Linked DNA regions of Homo sapiens: region 2 is linked to region 1. The links come from fine-mapping of genetic effects on gene expression. A gene starts in region 1. The other region holds a variant in brackets. All regions are shown on one strand. Distances are from middle to middle.

Region 1 (2,913 bases):
ATCTATCTTCCCCATCAGACTGTAAGAAAGCTCCAGAAACACTGGCAACTTGTCTGTCTTTATTCCTCTCCAGTATCCCAAACAAAGAGGAGGCACTCAACAGTTATCAACTGAATTTATGGATGGTGACTCAAATTCTAAAATCTCTAGCAGTGGGAGACCTACTAAATAACAAAATAACTAACCTCAATTTTTCTTTCTCTGAACTGCAATCTGTCTTCTAGGTCTTAAATATCCTGTTACAACCAGCCAAATCAGGGCTGAACCCGTGAACTCGATCAGGACTGATTCCTAACCTTTTTCTTCTTTTTTTTTTTGGTTCGTGAACCCTTCTGATAAATCCTTTGAAGGCAATGGATGCTGCTTCTCCTCAAGAAACAGCACATGCACAGAAACAAAACATCCGAGAGGTTTCACTCCCTCAGGACCAGCACAGACCACAGACTAAAATTCTAACCTGGACGAAAAGAGGATTCACCAGTGCAATTTTTGAGAACTAAAGTCTTCAAAAATTAAATTTTACAGAAGACTACAGAGCATCTTCTTCGAAAAAAAAAAAAAAAGAGGACATTTCAGATGCCTTCAAACTACCTCACTTCGGAGGGTGCAACTGCAATCAGTAAATTTTCAAGTCTAAAAGAAACTTGGGAGATCATCGTCCAAAAACTGAAGGCCCAAAAGGTAGGAGACTCGTCTGTGGTCAAGTTAGCACAACAAGGCAGGTCTTTGGTCCCCCAACCCTGTGCTCTTTCCACTTAAATCCCGATGGTTTCTTACAGAGTTCTAATAGTCTGAGAATTGGAAGGGAGCGGAGAGCAGAGGGAAGGCTGGGGGGAGAGAGAGACGGCAGGACTGACAGGGAAGGGTCACTCTCCTTCCACTCTCCGGGAAGCGTGCAACACAGCCGGGGCAACCCGACTCCCAGCGCTCACCTGTCTGGGGCCCAGAGGCGGGTGGTGCGGTCTCGGGACACGGACACAAAGGCTCCCGGCGGATAGGCGCAGCACACCAGGCCCCGTACGTCCAGCTCGTGGCCCCGGAGCGAGCAGCTCAGCCGGTACCTGGTTGCGCCGCTCGTCATGGCCAGTGTCTGTCTGGCGCCCGGTGCCCAGGCACTGTGCGAGACCAGTCCGCAGGGGCGACTCGGAGAGCGCCGGGCCGCGGCGGGAGAAGAGCCTGCAGGTAAGGGGCGGCCGGAGACCGGAAGAGCCCGAGAGCCGGTACGGAAGGGCGGCTGGGAAGGGGCGCGCCGAGCGGGCCGAGTGACACAGCAAGCCTGACAGGCACTCCGGAATTCATCATCGGCCTCAGCCCTCCATGACGCAGAGTGTGTGCGTCCCAACCGCCGACGCCGATGCGGAGCTGAGCTGGCTTTCCTCCAGGGCTCTGGACTCCCTGCTGAGCAAGAGAGAAAGAGGCCCGCCCTTCCACCAGGACGCCTGACCCTGGGGTCCTTCCCAAACCCGGGTCTCTTCCGACTCCGGGCCCAACAGTTTGTGGTAAATCGGGAAGCGGGCCGGGACTACAATTCCCATAATGCCGCGCCAGCTGGCGTGGACATCCGGCGCGCCGAATCCGGATATTTTAAACCTGAGTCTTTCGCGCTGGGCATGGCGGAATGGCTGAGTGAGGTTGTTTGGTGTCTACTGTTAGGTCATCCTCACTGCTTTTCCCTGAGAATCTCGAGGTTTTTGCAAGTTAACCTTGTTTTTCAATTAAAACGAGAAAGCTTGAGGCCAAATTGGGAACTATTAATCATTGAACTATTCCTCCGTTTCAAGTTATCTGAATCTCCTACTCTCTGTTGTCAAATTTAGCAAATACGGTGGTCCAAGTCAATTTTTTAAAGGTATAACTACTTTTCTCTGGCGGCTTGTTAAAATGTAGATTCTGATTCAGTAGGTCTGAGTTAGAGCTGAGATACGTATTTTTAACAACCCCGCCGCCCACCCACCCGTGGTGCTACTTGCTAGTCATTATCAGACCTTATTGAGTGCCAGGGTAAACATGACCTGTCTCCTTACTTTGTTTTCTTCCCATCCGCTATTCTCTCGCATCCAACTACACTTTTCCACAAACCTTTCTAAATTGCTAAGCCCAATTCACACTTTTCTGACTTCTCCCTTCCTAAAACTCCTACTCTAGGTTTGGAATCACTTTTCCCCTGGTTTGGGAGATCATTCTTGAAATGCTGACTTTTGATACTTCTTTGCTATCATATCCCCTCCCTGGGTGGATTATTTACTACTTGGCTTATTTCTAGAGCTGTATTCCCATATTGTCTTCTCCAAACTCTAGATCTGTATTTCTAGCTATCTGTTAGAAATCTGTACCAATTAGTCCTACTTAAATTATTTCAACATTTCTCTGGCCTTTCTACCCCTTCTCTCCAGCCAATCCTACACATTAAAATATAATTATCTTTCTGAAATATACACTTAATTGTTTTTTCTCTGTTTGACAACCTGTGATGGCTTTCCATTATTTTTTTTTTTTTTTTTTTTTTTTTTTTTTTTTTTTTTTTGAGACGGAGTGTCGCTCTGCTGCCAGGCTGAGTGCAGTGGCGCGATCTCGGCTCACTGCAACCCTCGCCTCCCGGGTTCAAGCGATTCCTGCCTCAGCCTCCCGAGTAGCTGGGACTACAGGAGCGCGCCACCATGCCCAGCTAAATTTTGTGTTTTTAGTAGAAACGAGTTTCACCATGTTGGCCAGGATAGTCTCAATCTCTTGACCTCATAATCTGCCCTCCTCTGCCTTCCAAAGTGCTGGATTATAAGCGTGAGCCACCACGCCTGGCCGGCTTTCCATTCTTATAGTACAGCATTACATAGGGCCTTTCACACAATCTCCCTAATCTGTTTTACTAGATTCATCTCCCTCTGTTATCTCTCTTACTCTAGACATTTCGAATTT
Region 2 (2,913 bases), 250 kb after region 1:
CTGGGTAGACCGAATAAAATGGTATTATTACTGAGTCCTTCACATACTATTGTAGATTCTATCAAAATTCAGAATTCCAGGGATGTCAGGCTGATTTGCTGAATTGCTGTTTCCAACATCAATGGCTAGGTCTTTTGCTGTCATATGGTGGTAATAATCCATCACCTTTGTCTACAAGTGGACATCCACAAAGTGGTCTTCTAAGAACTGTTAAACACATCCCAGTTTTTTTTCTTACCAAGTAGGAATTTATCATATGATAAGGCAGAAATTTATCTTTGCAGTATCCATGGAGAAACAGAGGCTGACTAAAGCAAATAGGTAAGGAGAAAAGAGACAGATACCATTTGTTTATGGGTGCTATTTTCAAGGACTTCAGAATGCTTCATTGTAATAGTATGACCATTGCAAATCAGTTTTCTGGTCATTTTGAGCAAACCTCCTAAGCATCTTTTTCTCTCGATAGCTTGATTGCAATCAGTGTACATACTTGAAAACAGTAGCAATTAAATTATTCTAATTGAGTATTCCCCCAATCTGGTATTCCATATAGATTTGTGAGGTTTTATTCTACAAATGAAAAGACAAAAGCACCAGAGCAGAAATGTGTAAGTGGCACAGAAATACACACTTTAATGTGTACATTGTAACCTGGAAACATTTCAAAAGCCTAATTTTCCTCATATTGGGAAGGATGAGGCCTTGAAGATGGAATTGCCTCTCTGTTTCACTAAGACGTAGTTTTGAAAACCTAAAATTAGTTCACATCGCAATAACAACAACCCCGGCTTAAGGAATGTAAGAGAATGCCAACTTAAGTTTCCTGGACGTTTTCTCTTCTCAGTGACAAATGAGATTGTTACACTCAACTATTTGGAACCTCGGACAGAATATGAACTCTGTGTGCAACTGGTCCGTCGTGGAGAGGGTGGGGAAGGGCATCCTGGACCTGTGAGACGCTTCACAACAGCTTCTATCGGTCAGTGGAAGCCAACAGGCATTTATTCATGAGCTGGGTGGGAGGGGGAGGAAGGGGAAAGAGGAAGGAAGACCAGGAAGGGTGGTGGTGGGTGAGTGGGTGGGTGGGGATGGAGGTGGCAGGAGTTCGCTTTTGAATGGGTGGGAAAGTGACAGGAAGGCTAGCAACTTCAAGCCAAACTGTTCCTTTATTTGGGTTGGACTCCTGGTCTGTCTCCCTGGGGGAGGAGGTCTGCAGCACTCTGTAGGGACAGAGAAGGAAGCAGATGAGCCTTCAGGAAGGCAGGGCCTCCCCTAGGAGCTGGGATTTACACAGCAGCAACTGTGCTGAGCTTCAGCTCCTGCATTTTATCACTGGCTTCCTGTTTCCATCTTAAGGGCCCAGACCAGGCTCTTGCCACAGGCATATTTTAGAAGTCCCAGTTTATTTATTTTCAAAAATAATTTCCAATTTTTCAAAGTAATTCATGGTCAGAGTCATGACATCAAATAGAATAAGAAGCTTTTATCTAAAGAACAGCATTCTCCTGCTCCACCCTCCACCTCCCAGTCCTGCTTCCTATAGGTAGCCACTTTCATCTCCTTAAGCTATTTCTTATATTTACCTCCCTTTTCTAAATCAGTGGTTCTCAAACCTAAGTGTCCATCAGAATCACTCAGAGAGTTTGTTAAAAGATGTTTCTGGGCCTCGTCCCCAGAGTTTCGGATTCAATGGTTTTGAGGTGAGGATGGGGCCGGGGTTCAAAAATTTGCATTTCTAGTAG[G/C]TTCCCAAGTGATGCTGCTGGTCCTGGGTCCACACGTTCTAGATAACATGTGTAAAATTACTTCTGGACTTCTCAGTGGTGTTTGGTATTGACTGGCCTTCTATTGCGTTAATTAACTCTGTGAAGCCTCCTTGATGCTAACCTGACCTCCAGCTTTCTGTTACCCAGGTACCCTCCATTGAAATACTGGAGTGATCTTTTGTAAGGTTCCATTCCTGGTTCTTTGAATTGTTCACTGTGTATAACCATTCTGTTACTCTCTCTTGGTCAGTACTTTATACTTTCAACTTCATATATATTTGATTTATATCACCTAGGAAAGTAAGAATTATCATCTTCCCTATTTTACAGATTGAAAAGTAGAGACTCAGAGTACTTAATAACAGTAAGATGCATCACCATACTAAATCTTCGGGCTTCATATCTTTGTCTTTTAGAGCCAGGATCTTGCTCTGTCACTCAAGCTGGAGAGTGCAGTGGTTTGATCAACACTCATTACAGCCTCTATCTCCTGGGCTCAAGTCATCCTCCCACCTCAGCTTCCTGAGTAGCTGGGACTACAGGCACACCACCACATCTGGCTACTTCAAAAAATTTTTTTTGTAGAGACGGGGTCTTGCTTTGTTGCCCAGGCTGGTCTTAAACTCCTGCCTCAAGCAGTCCCCCAGCCTTGGCCTCTCAAAGTGTTAGGATTACAGGGATGAGTCACCACTCCCAGTCCAGGCTCCATATCCTTTTGTTTCTCCAATTATTATTTCTACCTAGAATCCCAAAGGCACCAGCTTATTATCCCAGTTCACATATTTGCCTGTGTTTTACTCCATTTACTAAAAGTAGAAGGATATGTTATGATTGAGTGAAAAAACCAGGAAGAACATCCACTTTTCTTCTGCAGAGATTGTGCACCCTTAACAGAAACATCCTTCCTTCACACCACCCACCTAGTTTTTATGTTACTAGCAGCATCCTTAAAGAACCAAATGAGACTCAAAAGCTACTCTGAGACTTATAGAAGCATTACACACAAGTAAGAAATGGCTGCTTGGGGACCCACCTGGTTGTGAATATAAAAAATAAACCCAGAAACTATATAGAGAGGAAAAAGGGACCTCTACAACCATGACCCAAGGGATCCCTGATATGTCATCATGTTACTGCTAAAAGGCAAATG

Which allele goes with the higher level. Positions count from the first base shown, and alleles are read on the strand shown. Sizes are in standard deviations (SD) of each study's normalised expression.
In carriers of allele C in region 2, the expression in neutrophils of the gene that starts at base 1,278 in region 1 tends to be higher than with G alone (moderate effect, 0.49 SD a copy in BLUEPRINT).

Evidence for each region. PIP is the estimated chance that this variant, and not a neighbour inherited with it, causes the effect.
Region 2: its variant is fine-mapped to the expression of PLAA in neutrophils (BLUEPRINT, PIP 0.95).

The regions. Positions count from the first base shown.
Region 1 is chr9:26,945,965-26,948,877 of GRCh38, forward strand. It overlaps PLAA (phospholipase A2 activating protein), which reads right to left and starts at 1,278. Exons shown (of 14, transcript NM_001031689.3): 1 at 933-1,278. The coding sequence starts at 1,081. It also overlaps a transcript of IFT74 not described here. RefSeq lists enhancers at 353-1,028, 772-1,031, 1,029-1,702, 1,292-1,601.
Region 2 is chr9:27,191,645-27,194,557 of GRCh38, forward strand. It overlaps TEK (TEK receptor tyrosine kinase), which reads left to right. Exons shown (of 23, transcript NM_000459.5): 11 at 845-979. Among named protein-coding and RNA genes, the nearest start is that of TEK, 84 kb to the left of the region's middle. The variant G/C (reference allele first, on the strand shown) is at 1,743.